Regions from separate parts of the Homo sapiens genome. Here region 2 is linked to region 1. Evidence: fine-mapped expression QTL. Tissue or cell type: subcutaneous fat. Region 1 holds a variant in brackets; the other region holds the start of a gene. All regions are shown on one strand. Distances are from middle to middle.

Evidence for each region. PIP is the estimated chance that this variant, and not a neighbour inherited with it, causes the effect.
Region 2: it holds the start of FLVCR1, and the variant in region 1 is fine-mapped to the expression of FLVCR1 in subcutaneous fat (GTEx, PIP 0.91).

Annotation. Positions count from the first base shown.
Region 1 is chr1:212,883,549-212,891,812 of GRCh38, forward strand. FLVCR1 (FLVCR choline and heme transporter 1) reads left to right here. Exons shown (of 10, transcript NM_014053.4): 5 at 1,745-1,848; 6 at 4,343-4,453; 7 at 4,941-5,046; 8 at 5,598-5,709. Among named protein-coding and RNA genes, the nearest start is that of FLVCR1, 29 kb to the left of the region's middle. The variant T/C (reference allele first, on the strand shown) is at 4,418.
Region 2 is chr1:212,853,629-212,861,628 of GRCh38, forward strand. FLVCR1 (FLVCR choline and heme transporter 1) reads left to right here and starts at 4,647. Exons shown (of 10, transcript NM_014053.4): 1 at 4,647-5,562. The coding sequence starts at 4,825. FLVCR1-DT (FLVCR1 divergent transcript) reads right to left here and starts at 4,510. Exons shown (of 2, transcript NR_027286.1): 1 at 4,138-4,510; 2 at 2,976-3,290. It also overlaps the pseudogene RPS28P2. RefSeq lists silencers at 4,748-4,807, 4,888-5,097.

The sequences.
Region 1 (8,264 bases):
AATATTTACATTTGTTTTAATTGAGAATATATTTGTTAAAAAATGAAATTTCCACAACTTTATATATCTAATTGGCTTTTATTATCAATTCGTTTATTGGACAGCATCCCATCTAAAGATTTAGAAAGGTACTGATGAGCTGAGCAGAGGAGATGGGCTTTATAGGCAGAAAAAGGCTGAAGAAAGCAGAAACAAGGAACAAAGAGCAGATTGGTTGCTACAAAGTTACTTTCCTTATAGGAGTAAAACAAAGGGGACTGGGCCCCATCTGATAGGTTGCTATGAATCTCCTTTTTTTTTTTTTTTTGGAAAAGTGGCCCATTTTAAAGTTCAGTTTGATTATGTGACACCTAGCACTAGTGACACCATTCTATGTGGTCTGGTCTGTTGGGCCTACTGTGGGAGCTCACTCCAAAACAATGGCCTCCCATCATTTTAATTTAACATATTTAATCCAGTTTATAAAGCACATAGTATGGCCAGGCATAGTGGCTCACGCCTGTAATCCCAGCACTTTGGAAGGCCGAGGCGGGTGGATCACCTGAGGTCGAGACCAGCCTGACCGACATGGAGAAACCCTGTCTCTACCAAAAATACAAAATTAGCTGGGCATGGTGGCGCATGCCTGTAATTCCAGCTATTCGGGAGGCTGAGGCAGGAGAAACACTTGAGCCTGGGAGGTGGAGGTGGCGGTGAGCCGAGATCGTGCCATTGTATTCCATCCTGGGCAATAAGAGTGAATCCCCATTTAAAAAAAAAACAGGCTGGGCGCCGTGGCTCACACCTGTAATCCCAGCCAAGATAGCGCCACTGTACTCCAGCCTAGTGACAGAGTGAGACTCCATCTCAAAAAAACGAAACAAAACAAAATACACACACACACAATATGGAAAGCAGAAGTTACTATCCCTGTGACAATACCTAAGTTTATTTTTAGGAAATAATATGATTGGTTATATGGAAAAAGACAAAACATTTTAAGGGAACTCAGCATAAATATAGATAAATAAATATCAAGTTTTGATTGACGTATCTGCTTTTGAAAGGATAAAGCAGTTGTACTATGTAAAAGCTATCGATTAACCTCCTTTTCAGATATCTATACAGTGTCATACCTTGCTTAGTGACAGGAATACCTTCTGAGAAATTCGCTAGGCAATTTCATTGTTGTGTGAATATCATAGAGTGTACTTACGCAAACCTGATGGTAGAGCCTGCTACATACCTAGGCTACGTGGTATAGCCTATTGCTCCTAGGCTACAAACCTGTATAACATGTTATGCTACTGAATGTTGTAGGCAGTTGTAATACAATGGTAAGTATTGTGTATCTAAATATATCTAAACAGAGAAGGTAGAATAAAAATACAGTATTATAATCTTACAGGATCATACTGTATATATGATTCAGAGTTGACCTAAATGTAATTATGGAGCACATGACTATCTATACTTAAGAATCCTAACAAAAATCATTGTACTTCTAACCATAGAGGATTAAGGAAAATTTACCTTTTTTATTTCTTCTATTATTTTAGGCTTTTTTTCTGGTTTTAAAATATAATGCTTTTATATATTCTTTACCTGCCCTCCCCTCCCACACTGACACATGTACTAAATCTTCCTACTGTGTGCTTAGTTTTATCTAATTATTTTCATTGACTATGAAAAGGTGTGGGAATGTGAAGAGTCTGAATTAGTTAATCCATTTATTTGATCAACTTCTTACGCAAATTTTTTTCAGGGAGAAGAAGTCAATGCTGGAAGGATTGGGCTAACGCTAGTAGTAGCTGGAATGGTGGGCTCTATTCTTTGTGGCTTATGGCTGGATTATACTAAAACATACAAGTAAGTGAAAGTAAATACATGTATGGTGTATAACCAAAGGTATTTTGATTTTAAAGGACAATTTGCTTTTTATTTCAAGAAATTTAAAACATGTTATTACTTAAAGATACGGATTCTAAACACTAGTAGGTTCTCTTCACTTAACAAGTGTTTCTTTTTTTTTTTTTTTTTTGAGACGGAGTCTCGTTCTGTCGCCCAGGCTAGAGTGCAGTGGCGCAATCTCGGCTCACTGCAACCTCTGTCTCCCGGCTTCACGCCATTTTCCTGCCTCAGCCTCCCGAGTAGCTGGGACTACAGGCACCCGCCACCATGTCCGGCTAATTTTTTTATATTTTTAGTAGAGACGGGGTTTCACCTTGTTAGCCAGGATGGTCTCGATCTCCTGACCTTGTGATCCACCCGCCTCGACCTCCCAAAGTGCTGGGATTACAGGCGTGAGCCACCGCGCCCAGCAACAAGTGTTTCAATACTCTATGTATTGTATTATTTTATTGGTCACATTTATTTCAATTCTGAGAACTTGGATACCTTATGAGCCCCTTCTTTCTAACAGTACTCATACCTACCACTTCCGAAGGAATTATTTCTATTCTAAAAAGAGCCATTTCTGAGAAATATTTGACTTTTGATAGACTTTATCTTGTTCTTTTTTTTTTTTTTTTTTAGGTGGGGTCTCACTCTGTCACCCAGGCTGGAGTGCAGTGGCACCATCTTGGCTCACTGCAACTTCTGCTTTCCAGGCTCAAGTGATTCTCCCACCTCAGCCTCCTGAGTAGCTGTGACCACAGGTGTGCGCCACCACACCCGGCTAATTTTTTGACTTTTTGATAGAGACAGTGTTTCACCATGTTGCCCAGGCTGATTTTGAACTCCTGAGGTCAGGCAATCTGCCCACCTCAGCCTCCCAAAGTGCTGGGATTACAGGCATGAGCCACTGCACCTGGCCTATGTTGTTCTTTTTTTATGTTGTGGGCTTAAATACAAAAACAAAAAAGTAGTTCTTTCCAATCAAAAAATTATTGTTGAGCATAAGGCTTTATTTTGGTAAGAACTTTTTGGCTAAAGTACGCCCAGACTACAGTACCACTTAACTGTAATATAATGCATAATGTGAAAATGCTGGTTTGACACAATGTCTTATGCCTGTAATCCCAGCATTTTGGGAGGCCAAGGCGGGTAGATTGCTTGAGGCCAGGAGTTCGAGACCAGCTTGGGCAACATGGTGAAACGCCATCTCTACTGAAAATACAAAAAATAGTCAAGTGTGGTGGTGGGCACCTGTAATCCCAGCTACTCAGGAGGCTAAGGAAGGAGAATTGCTTGAACCCAGGAGGCAGAGGTTGCAGCGAGCTGAGATAGCGTGCCACTGGTCTCCAGCCTGGGTGACAGAGCAAGACGCTGTCTAAAAAAATAAAAAAAAAAGAATATACTCTGTTAATTGTACATTATATGGAACCACCAAAAGGCTAATACCAAAGAAAATGAATGATACCAACTGGGAGACTAAGAAAGGGGTTTCAGAGGCAGCATATTTTGCTCTGGGAGTGAAAAGAATCACCACATTTTGTAACATGCCAAAACTTACCCCTGTACTTGGAAATGAATGAATGAAACTATTAAGGAATAAATGAATGAAATATGGAACTGTGTCCCGTGTACCTTTCAAGGCTCAAGATATATTTGATATTATTAGTCTAAACGCTACCAAAAGTATCTCTAATCTTGAAATTCTCCATATTCTTCCATAATTTAAGACAGCACTTGCCTTAGCTTCATTATTTTAAAATGATAGCTTAGAGTGAAACCTACTTGATATATAGATGAAGGGAGCATATGTAAAGGATTATATTTCTTAAGTCTTTCATCCGTTATACATTTAGAAAACTTGATAGGCATAGATGTGTGTTCTTTGCCACTGTGGCTTCCTTCTCAGGGTAACTGCCATTCATTCACCAAACTCCTGTTGTGTGCATCTTTCTTAGATGAAAATTATGGCTGGCATTATGTGATCCCTGTTCTTAAGATGTTTGTGGTCTAAATGGAGCAAATAAGGCATTCACATGTGAAAAGTTAAATAATATAACAAACTAAAATAGATGTCATAAGTTTTATAGTGCCAGTATGATAAGGGAATTTGGAAGAAAGAGAGACTCTTATAAACTGGTGTCGTTACAGAAGGCATTTGGAAGAGGTAGAATTTGATCTGAATCTTGAAATGTGAATAGGGAACTATCCCATTTGGTGGCATAAAAATGATTTTATTCCTATAAAAGGATCCTATCTGAGCATTCGATATGGTGTGGTTTTCTGGTGCTGCTGAATCTTAAATTAAAAATGCTTTAAAATTTGTGCTTTGGTGGATACATATTTCCATGGACAAGAAGGGGTGAACTTTGAAAAACAAAGATTCATTACTGAACAGGTAAGAGTGATGATTTTTGTATTCCTAGGAGAATCAGACAAAATACTAACAGCTTTGTTGTTTTTGTTTTAGACAGACTACTCTGATAGTTTATATTTTGTCTTTTATTGGAATGGTTATCTTTACTTTCACATTGGACCTTAGATA[T/C]ATTATCATCGTGTTTGTTACTGGAGGGGTGCTTGGGTAAGTATCAGATGTGTTTAGGAGGAATGATAGCATGCTGTTATAATTCTGAAGTATTATTACTCTGGTCTTTAATTTTTTCAGTTCATCCAAAGTTTCTTCAATATTTTAAACTTTAAAGGATTCATTCTATGCATATAAACATGTAATTCTTAAGAACTATTAAAAATTATTTAAAATTGGTTTTTGGTATACCATAGGTAAAAAATGGATGAGCCTTACTTAATCTGTGTAACTTTATTTGGTTACAATCAACTTATAAAACTAGAAGTAAATTTTTCTCAGAAAAAAATGTGTATTTGTTGCTTCCAGTTCTGTAACCTTGAGCTGATTGGTCAATGATAATAGTTCCTTACTTTGACATAGCAACTTCAAAATATTCACTTATTTGGTCATTAGAATAAGCCCGAGAGGCAGAATGATTGCATCAGTATGTGATTGTGACTTTCTGGTAGTTCTTTCTGTAATTCTGGATTTATTTTCCTAGCTTCTTCATGACTGGTTACCTCCCTTTGGGTTTTGAATTTGCTGTTGAAATCACTTACCCTGAATCTGAAGGTACTTCATCTGGTCTTCTTAATGCTTCTGCACAGGTAAACCTCTGATTTCTCTAAACCTGAGATGATTATTATACCAGATATTCTAGTGAGTAATGAGTTTGACCATGGTTTTATTTGTTGTTGTTGTTGTTTTGTTTTTTGGAGACAGAGTCTTGCTCAGCCATCCAAGCTGGAGTGCAGTAGTGCAGTCATGGCTAACTATAGCCTCAAACTCCTAGGCTCAAGCAATCCTCCCCCCTCTGCCTCCAGAGTTTTTGGGACTGCAGGTGCACACCAGCATGCCCAGCTAAATTTTTTTTGTTATTTTTTGTAGAGATGGTGTTTTGCCATGTTGTCCAGGCTGGTCTCGGACTCCTGGGCTCAAGCAATTCGCCTACCTCAACTCCCAAAGTGCTAGGATTACAGTGGGTGTGAGCCACTGCACCCAGCCTGACCGTGGTTTTTGTTTTAACAATTCAACTTTTCAATGAATGTTTCTAGAAACCAAATCATATAACCAAAATAAGAAAAGTTCTGGTGAAAACTTTATACTTGCTTTAAATAATTTAACTTAATAACGAATGATTTTTCTTATTGTATTTTAGATATTTGGAATTTTGTTCACATTGGCTCAAGGAAAGCTCACATCAGACTATGGTCCTAAGGCAGGGAACATTTTTCTCTGTGTCTGGATGTTTATAGGCATCATATTAACAGGTAAATTAGGGCGTTTGCCTGGCAAAAGGACTTGTGTCATGTGTTAATTTTCATATATATTGCTTCTCAATAGCTTGACAGAACTCAAGGGGAAAAAAATGAGATAAAAAGCAGGACATTATTTGTTTTCTTCTAAAGACATGAATCTCTTACTTCATTTTGCAGATTTCAAATTCAATACAGTTACTCTGCATAGCAAGCAAAACTGTTATAATAAGAGTAGTAAAGGCTGGGTGTGTTGGCTCATGCCTGTAATCCCAGCACTTTGGGAGGCAGAGGCGGGCAGATTACTTGAGGTGAGGAGTTTGAGACCAGCCTAGCCAACATGGCGAAACCCCGTCTCTACTAAAATTAGCCAGTTGTGGTGGCGCACACGTGTAGCCCCAGCTACTTGGGAGGCTGAGGCAGGAAAATTGCTTGAACCCAGGAGACAGAGGTTGCAGTGAGCCAAGATCACACGAGTGCACTCTAGCTTGGGCAACAGCGAGACTCTGTCTCAAAAAAAAAAAAAAAAAAGAGTAGTAAAGACCTGGAGTTGGGAAGACCTGGCCTCAAATTCCGATTCTGTTGCTCAGTGGGAGTGTGACTTTAGACCCGTTGCTTAACCTCTCAAATCCTCCTTTCCTTATTTATATAATAGAGTGTTAAAGCCTGCTTTATAGGGTTACTGTGAGGATTAATTGAAATGGTTCATGAAAAGTTCCTAGTGTCTGGCACCTGGGACGTGCCTAACATGTGTTACTATTGTTATAATGTGGTAGAGATGGTAAGCAGTCAAGTGGTAGTGGTGGAAATAGTATGTGGAATCCTTAGCTAGTGCTTATACTTCTTAGGTATAGTCATCATAGACATGGGCAGGAAAGAAAATAGTGCTCAATCTCCAGAGAAAGAGAATGTCAGAGAATTTTTATCCATAGTTTGCCCATGCACATGGGTGTACAATAGATTTGGAAGCAGAACTTTTTCCAGGTGCATACTTTTAAAATGTCATCATTCCCTAAACATTATAGTATAACAGCTATTTACATTGTATTAGGTATTAGTAATCTAGAGATGGTTTAAGTACATAGGAGGATGTGTGTACGTTATATGTAAATACTTCCCAGGGGCGTCCAATCTTTTGGCTTCTCTGGACCACATTGGAACAAGAAATATCTTGGGCCACACATGAAATACTCTAATACTAATGATAGCTAATGAGCTAAAAAAAAAAAATTGCAAAAAATCTCATAATGTTTTTTAAAAATTTGTGAGTTTGTGTTAGGCCACATTCAAAACTGTCCTGGGCCACATATGGGCTGCAGACCACAGGTTGAACAAGCTTATACTACACCATTTCATATAAAGGCCTTGAGCATTCGTGGATTTTGGTATCTGAGGTGGGGTCTTGGAATCAATCCCCCGCAGATACCAAGGGAGGTTGTGCTTCGTTGATCTGGTTATAACTTAGTTGGAGGATCTGGTTATAACTTAGTTGGAGAATCTATCAGAAGGATGTGAATCAGAATTTCTTCTACTGTTTGTGGAATACCTGATCATTCTTTGTGAAACCTTCAATATGAAATCTCACCAGTGATAGACATTTTGGATATACACAACTACCTAAGGTCGCTCACTCAATTGTATGAATGATAGGAACCTGAGCATTCATTCACGAAGCTAAAAGAAAGTGAATGCACTCTGTTTCCTCAAAGAAAAACATCTTATCACAGGGAGTTTTTCCCCCTGTCCAGTTAGTAAAATAAAACATACAAAACTGTGAAATATGTAATACATTAACTGCTTTAACTATTGTTCTTTCATAAGTAATTCCATGTTGGTTCTTAATTCCTAGGCAAGTACTATATCTTATCTAAGATTATTACTATTGGCTGGACGTGGTGGCTCATACTTGTATTCCTAGCACTTTGGGAGGCTGATACAGGTGGATCATTTGATGTCAGGAGTTCAAGACCAGCCTGACCAACATAGTGAAACCGTGTCTCTACTAAAAATACAAAAAACTTTAGCCAGTTTTATGGGCACACACCTGTAATCTCAGCTACTTGGGAGGCTGAGGCAGAAGAATTGCTTGAATCTGGGAGGCTGAGGCAGAAGAATTGCTTGAATCCGGGAGGCGGAGGTTGCAGTGAGTGGTGAAGATCACACCACCACTCCAGCCTGGGTGACAAAGTGAGACTCCGTCTCAAAAAAAAAAACAGTATTATTGTTATACCAAAGAAGGGAGCAGTTTTGTAATCCTCCTTCAAATTACTTTTACAAGAGATTCATGAATACTAATTCAAACAAATCAAGTCTAGAAAATTAAGAAGTGAAAATAGATCTTTAAAATTAGTTTTACATTGATGCTTTTACCATCTCAAATGGTATTCCCTGAGGCACAACAATATTGAAATCAGGGCCCTGATTAATACCCCCAAATTATTACCCCTACAGTGGCCTCCAGGTGTTTAAGCAAAAGGAAGAGTAGTAAATCTCTCCTCTTAAATCAGAAGCTAAAAATGATTAAGCTTAGTGAACAAGTCATGTCAAAAGCCCAGATAGGCCAAAAGCTA
Region 2 (8,000 bases), 30 kb before region 1:
CCACCTCCCCATGAAACATCATGGATTGCACATCCAATAGCATTGTTCTGGTTTGCATCTTAACCTCTGAGGCTCGTAAACTGTGGCAAACCTTTGTTCAGGGACAGCTACATCACTCCTATTAGCATCTTGGACCTTGGCTCCTGGATGCTGTCCAGATCTCATATTGCTGAAGTGTTACTTATTCAAATCTCTCTGACTTGGCATTCCACACCCATAAAGTAGCTCAATCTCATCTTGACTCCCAGCCAAACGATGCTCCCAGTAGTATCTTTTTTGACAGAGATTAAGGTTCATTTTACGTTATACATCCAAACATTTGATATAAATAATGACTCATGTTTAAACTGGTTAATAAATATCTACCACTGAAGCCAGAGAAAGAAGACAAGATTAAGAAATTAGAATGGTGGCCGGGCACGGTGGCTCATGCCTGTAACCCCAGCACTTTGGGAGGCTGAGGTAGGTGGATCACCTGAGGTCAGGAGTTCGAGACCAGCCTGACCGACATGGAGAAACCCTGTCTCTACTAAAAATACAAAAATTACCCGGGTGTGGGCACCTGTAATCTCAGTTACTTGGGAGGCTGAGGCAGGAGAATCACTTGAACCCGGGAGGCAGAAGTTGCAGTCAGCTGAGATTTCATCATTGCACTCCAGCCTGGACTCCAAGGGCAAAGCTCTGTGTCAAAAAAAGAAAAAGGAAAAGAGAAAGAAATAGATTTCACTCCCTCCTTCCCTTCCTTCTGGAAGTTTGCAAGACTTTTTTTGTTTTTGTTTTTGTTTTTGTTTTTTTCTGAGACGGAGTCTCGCTCTATCGCCCAGGCTGGAGTGCAGTGGCGCGATCTCGGCTCACTGCAAGCTCCACCTCCTGGGTTTACGCTATTCTCCTGCCTCAGCCTCTCGAGTAGCTGGGACTACAGGCGCCCACCACCATGCCCGGCTAATATTTTGTATTTTTAGTAGAGATGGGCTTCACCGTGTTAGCCAGGATGGTCTTGATCTCCTGACCTCGTGATCCACCCGCCTCGGCCTCCTAAAGTGCTGGGATTACAGGCGTAAGCCACTGCACCTGGCCAAGATTTTTTTTTTTTAAGAAACAGATTTCACGTGGTGGTGGGCGCCTTAATCCCAGCTACTTGAGAGGCTGAGGAGGGAGAATCGCTTGAACCCCGGAAACAGAGGTTGCAGTGAGCCGAGATCGCATCACTGCACTCCAGCCTGGGTGACAAGAGCGAAACTCCGTCTCAAAAAAAAAAAAAAAATAATAATAATAATTTAAAAAAAGATTTCCTTCCTTCTCTCCTCCCTCCTTTTTTCCTTCCTTCCTTTCTTTTTCTCTCTTTCTTTCTTTCTCTCTCTCTTCTTTCTTTGTCTCTTTCCTTTCTTTTCTTTCTAATTTGGCACACAAACACTTTATTTAAATGCATATCTCAATTCCTGTGCGGCTGGCAAATAAAATAAAGGAGCAGATCATGGCACAGCATTCTCATGGACCAAGTGGTCGAACCCAACATCCAAGACCCAGTGAGCAGCCAAGCTCAGTGCAACCTCCAGGCCTCTCGCTCTGACTCCAACAGGGTGAGCACATAGCCCTTGCGCATGGGGTCTTTTACACTGTGGATGATGGAGTGGCTTGTGTCTTCCATAAATTCCCGCATGCACTGTCCCTGAGAGCTGGTTCTGCCCAGGACCTTGGTGACCCTGGCTAGCTAGATAGGCTGCACATGGCTGGTGTCTGTGATGGCGATGCAGCAGCAGTTGGGCAGAGAGAAGAAATAGATTTCTTTACAAAGCAAGTAATTATTTAAAATATTCACGGTAATTCAGTATTCATTAGCTGTACTCAGTAAATATTTATTGAACAGCTACTATGTGCTAGGTACTCGCACAAAGTACACTGGTTACAAATTCTTGAAAAATAGTAGCGGTAGCAAAAAGCAACAAAACTTTCAGCCCTGCCCTTATGGAACTCACATTCTAGTGGGCAGGGAGAAAATAACCAGAAAAAGGCCCAGCACAATGGCTCATGCCTGTAATCCTAGCACTTTGGGAGGCCGAAGTGAGCTGATCAGTTGAGACCAGTCTGAGCAATGTGGCAAAACCCCATCTCTACAAAAAATACAAAAAGTACTCAGGCTTGGTGGTCAGCCGAGAGAGAGAGAGAGAAGGAAAGAAAGAGAGAGAGAAAGAAAGAAAAGAAAGAAAGAGGCCAGGCTCGGTGGCTCAGGCCTGTAATCCCAGCACTTTGCGAGGCTGAGGCGGGCGGATCACGAGGTCAGGAGTTCAAGACCAGCCTGGCCAATATGGTGAAACCCTGTCTCCACTAAAGAAAAATACAAAAATTAGCCAGGCATGATGGCGCGGGCCTGTAGTTCCAGTTACTCGGGAGGCTGAGGCAGAAGAATCGCTTGAACCTGGGAGGTGGAGGTTGCAGTGAGCCGAGATCGCGCCACTGCACTCCAGCCTGGGTGACAGAGCAAGACTGTCAAAAAAAAAAAGAAAGAAAGAAAATAACCAGAAAAAAAAAGTAAAAATATAGGACATTTTAGGTGAAGGTAAGCACTAGGAAAGAAAGAAAAAAAAAAGCAGGGAAGGGATGTTGGCCGGGGCGGGCGGAGGGGGGGATTTATACAGTTTGGCCAAGGAAGACATTATAATAATGCACTTATTCCTTAGTTTAGAACATGTAGCATTTCACCTGTACCGAGAGATGCCTGATATATTTCATACATGACCAAAATAATAATGTAAGAGGCAATAAAAAAGTGCAGGGTTTTAGGGTTCTAGATATCAGCACATTTTAAGATTAAATGCATGGTAAGAACTTTTGTACTATATACACCTAGTTTGAACTTAAATTTAATAACAAACTCTTTGGAGTCTCTCTCTCTCTCTTTTTTTTTTTTTCCCAAACATAGCTTCCCAAGGAGCAGAAGGGCTGAATTTTCTCTAGTTCCAGGAAGACCGCAAGGCTACTGTGCTCTGGATGTCTCGTTTTTATTTTTTTATTTTTTTATTCTCCAGATCTCAAGACGGTGTCTGGCACATACCATTCAATACAAGTTTGGTACCTGGAACCCACTGAATATGCATGTCCAGTAACTATTAACTACATGTGTTGGTGCAAGGGAGAAGGTCGAGCAACCGGATCTGCTCCATCATAGCCCGTCTCAGTCGCTTCATTCAAGTCAGCGGGGTGAGGTTGAGGGGATTCCAACTTCACAAGGGCAGATTTCTCATGGACTCTCTTTCTCTGGTTGTACTGGAACACTTTCTGGCGTTATTCCTCTGCTGGGACAGCATGAACTTATGAAACGTGGTCCTGTCTGCCCTAAAGCCAGGGTCTCACCGACAAGGACAGCGATGCTGGGGCGAGAAATAAAGTTCGTCCTGGGCCTGCGTACGGTACAGCGCCCTTGGGAAGCCCTTGTGGAGTTAAGGGTGATGCCCACTTCTTTGTCTCCCTCATTCTGTTTCGGTGGCTCTCTCGTTCCCAGTTCCAAGCTGCCCACTTGTTAGAGGAGCCACTGCTTACCAGGCATCTGGTTTAATAAAACATGGCTAGAGCGACTGCATGTTAAAGTGAGTAACTAGGCACTCACAAGGCACCTATAAGGTTAATGCTAAAGGTCTGAAAATAGCCGCATTCTAAGCTGACCAACAATTATAATTACACAATATTTATGGCCATACAGGACATCTCCCACCAAGTCTGCGGAATTGTCCAGATGTCCTGAGTTTTTTTTTTTTTTTTAGACAAGGTCTCACTTTGTCGCCCAGGCTAGGCTGGAGGGCAGTGTGGTGCGATCTCAGCTCACTGCAACCTCCGCCTCCCAGGTTCAAGTAGTTCTCCTGCCTCAGCCTCCTGAGTAGCTGGGACTACAGGCATGCACCACCACGCCTGGCTACTGGCTTTTTTTTTTTTTTTTTTTTTTTTAAATAGATGGCATCTCAGTATGTTGCCCAGGCTGGTCTCGAACTCCTGGGCTCAAGGGAGACTCCTGTCCGGCCTCCCACAGTGCTGGGATTACAGACGTGGCCACCGAGCCCGGCCCAGCCCTCTACTCAGAGATAACGTCAATGCGCAGGCTTAGGTTGAAGGATTAATGGTCATTAGTGCACCAACAGCCCCTACCTTTAGTGGGCACATCAGCACATTCCACGATTAATCACAGCTCCTCACAGCTGCCTCTAAGTAGTGACACTACCGAAGGACGGGAGTTCCTCCTCCTGCAGTCTGAGGACTTGCACTCTCTAACGGAGTAGATTCCAATAAACTTGCTTCCTTCACTGCGCTCTGTGACTCGCCTCCAATTCTTCCCTGAAGTAGACCCAAGAACCCTCTCTTGGGGTCTGGATCGAGACCCCTTTTTCCAGCAACACAACCCGCGGGGCCGCCTCCCGCCCACCCTCAGGTGCAGGAGACCCCGGGCCATGCATCCTTCCGGGCAGGAAAATGTCAGCCAGCGCTCGCCGGCCGCTTTCCTCCCCCGCCTCCCGAAGTTCTCGCCCGGTAGCTCCCCGACTGGCTCTCGCGCCGGACAAAGGCGCACGCTGATTGGCCGGAGGGCCGTAGTCATGCAGGACGCGCGACTCTAGGGGCGGGACCAGACAAGGGGTGACTGCCGCGCGGCGCGGGGGAGGAGACCTTCATCTGTTCACGCGGTAGCGCGGATTGCGGTTCGCGGCGCGCGCCACCGGGGAAGGAGCGGTGGGCCGAGGGGTTGGAGGTGGGGCCCCAGGAGGACCTCGGGCTGTGGGCCGGGAGAGCGGAGTCGGGGAGTGGGGCGGGGGAGCGAGGTGGCGCCGGGGAGCCTGGGATATGGCGCGGCCAGACGATGAGGAGGGGGCGGCGGTGGCGCCCGGACACCCGCTCGCGAAAGGATACCTCCCGTTGCCGAGGGGCGCGCCCGTTGGGAAGGAGAGCGTGGAGCTGCAGAACGGGCCCAAAGCGGGCACCTTCCCGGTGAATGGGGCCCCCCGGGACAGCCTCGCTGCCGCCTCGGGAGTTCTGGGCGGGCCTCAGACTCCACTGGCCCCAGAAGAGGAGACCCAGGCCCGGCTGCTGCCTGCGGGCGCGGGAGCTGAGACCCCGGGGGCCGAGAGCAGCCCGCTGCCCCTTACGGCGCTCTCCCCGCGGCGCTTCGTGGTGCTCCTGATCTTCAGCCTGTACTCGCTGGTCAACGCCTTTCAGTGGATCCAGTACAGCATCATTAGCAACGTCTTCGAGGGCTTCTACGGTGTCACCTTGCTGCACATCGACTGGCTGTCCATGGTGTACATGCTGGCCTACGTGCCCCTCATCTTCCCGGCCACCTGGCTGCTGGACACCAGAGGCCTGCGGCTCACCGCCCTGCTGGGCTCCGGCCTCAACTGCCTGGGTGCCTGGATCAAGTGCGGCAGTGTGCAGCAGCATCTCTTCTGGGTCACCATGTTGGGCCAGTGCTTGTGCTCGGTGGCCCAGGTGTTCATCCTGGGCTTGCCCTCCCGCATCGCCTCAGTGTGGTTTGGGCCCAAAGAGGTGTCCACAGCTTGTGCCACCGCCGTGCTGGGCAATCAGGTAAGTACTGGAGTGGTAGGTGAAAGTCAGATCCTTAAAAGACCGGAAAAAGTCATAGGCCGTGAGAACTATGGCCTGTATGGATGAACTGCCCCAGGAGGTATTTGTCTATAAAAGAGGAGATGAAGCCGTTGAATAGGAGGCCGTCTTGGATTGAAGTGGGCTATAAATTTCTTTGTAAGGACAAAATTTTCCAAACGACCTTGTCATCTTGCTTTGAAAATTACCTATAAAATAATTAACTGGGCCGGGCGCGGTGGCACACACCTGTAATCCCAGCACTTTGGGAGGCCGAGGTGGGTGGATCACTTCAAGTCAGGAGTTCCAGACCAGCCTGGGCAACATGGGGAAACCCCGTCTCTGTTAAAAATACAGAAATTAGCCAGGCCTGCTTGCGGGTATCTGTAGTCCCAGCAACTCAGGAGGCTGAGGCAGGAGAATCTCTTGAACCCGGGAGGTGGAGGTTGCAGTGAGCGGAGATTGCACCTTTGCACTCCAGCTTGGGTGACAGAGTGAGACTCTGTCTCAAATAATAATAATAAACTGTAACCATAATAATAATAATAATAATTAACTGTATTGGCTTGTGTATGCCTAACATGGAAAATTTGTCAATGCAGTAACGAACAAGACTTGGGGTATTATTTTTGTCACCAGTGTATTTGTGAAAGGAAGGTATTGGGTTCTGGGAAGATTGTTTCCATTTTGAGAGGTCATTGTGAACAGCTCCCTTTTAATTTCATATATTAGCAGTCAGCACAGTTCCTGGCACATAAGGGACACATAAATGACTGCTAACCAAAAGTTCTGGGCTGGGCGTGGTGGCTCACGCCTGTAATCTCAGCACTTTGGGAGGCTGAGGCAGGCGGATCACTTGAGGCCAGGAGTCTGAGACCAGCCTGGCCAACATGGCAAAACCAAATACACAAAAATTAGTGGGGCATGGTGTGGTGCATGCCTGTAATTCCAGCTACTCAGGTGGCCAAGGCATGAGAATCTACATGCTTATTGCTTTATAGTCATTTCCCTTATCTAAAAGTACAGAAGATGGAGTAGGTTGAACTATAGTTGTTTGTCCAAAATAATTTATGACTGATACTTGAGTTGGTTGCATCTGCAGGTTTGGACAGAAGCTATTATAAAGTTTTTTGTGTGTGTGGTTTTTTTTTTTTTTTTTTGTAGAAATGGGGTTTCTCCATGTTGCTCATGCTTGTCTCGAACTGCTGAGCTCAAGCTCTCTGCCCACCTCTGCCTCCCGAAGTGCTGGGATTACAGGTGTGAACCACCACGCCCGGCCATGATTACATTTTCTTTGTCACACATCTCTCAGTTTAAATTCATTTTTAAATATTCAGTAGCATTTCTTGATCCCATTTAGAGTTGCCCAGTCACTCTCTTTACATTATTTTACTTTAATTCTCCTTATAGCACTCATCCCTGTCTCATATGTTATTGTTTACATGTTCATATGTTACTTACCTATTACTTTTCTCTTATCCCCACCATTAGATTGTAAGTTTCATGAAAATAGGAATGTGGTCTGAATGTACACAGCTGTATCACCAGCATTTATTACTCTCCATAAAACCATGTTGAATAAATAAAGGAGCTTCAGACTCATACAGATACTGGCCAGCTGGATAGTCTACTTGGATATCTCATGGGAACACACCACTCAAAATTGCTTTCTCCTTGCTCATTTCCCTTTATCTCTAATGCCACTGTCTTGGTTTGGGCCACCCACAGCTCTCACCTAGAGCTTGCTAACTGTCCTCCCTATCTGTAGCCCTTGCTGTCTTCCCTCTGTTCTCGCATTCATCCAGCGTGGTCTTTTACAATGTGCAAATCTGTTCCGGGCACATCCTTACCCCCTGCAGTGGCTTCCATTGTCCTTAGGATAAAATTCAAACACTCTAGTGTGACATATGGGACCCTCCAGATCTGCCTCCTGCCAGCCCTTCCACTTTATCTGTATGCACAACCCCTGTCCCCACAGACATATGCTTTCTCTGCTCTGTGCAGAACTATGCCTACTTATAGTTTCTCACAAGGTCGTGCCCTTTCCCTCCTGGCCTTGTATGTAATGTCCTGTTGGCTTGGAATATTTCTTCACTTGACTAACTCCAATTTCTTATTCAGATCTTTGCTCCTCCAGGAACTTTTTCTGAACCCCATTTCTTTTCATTCTTTTTGATAGCTGAATAATATTTCTATATAAGGTGCTCCCCCAAAGTACTCTCTTAGCTACCATGATCATATGTCCCAGTTTGCTTGGGATAGTCCAGGTGGTACACCTGTTGTCTGGTATGATTACTAATGAAGTCCCTTTCATTCTGAAGAGTATTCTAGATGGATAGTAAATTACGTGGTCTCCCCAGTCTTGGCACTGTTTACGTCTCAATCACAGTACTGTATTACCACCCTCTCTTGTAATTACC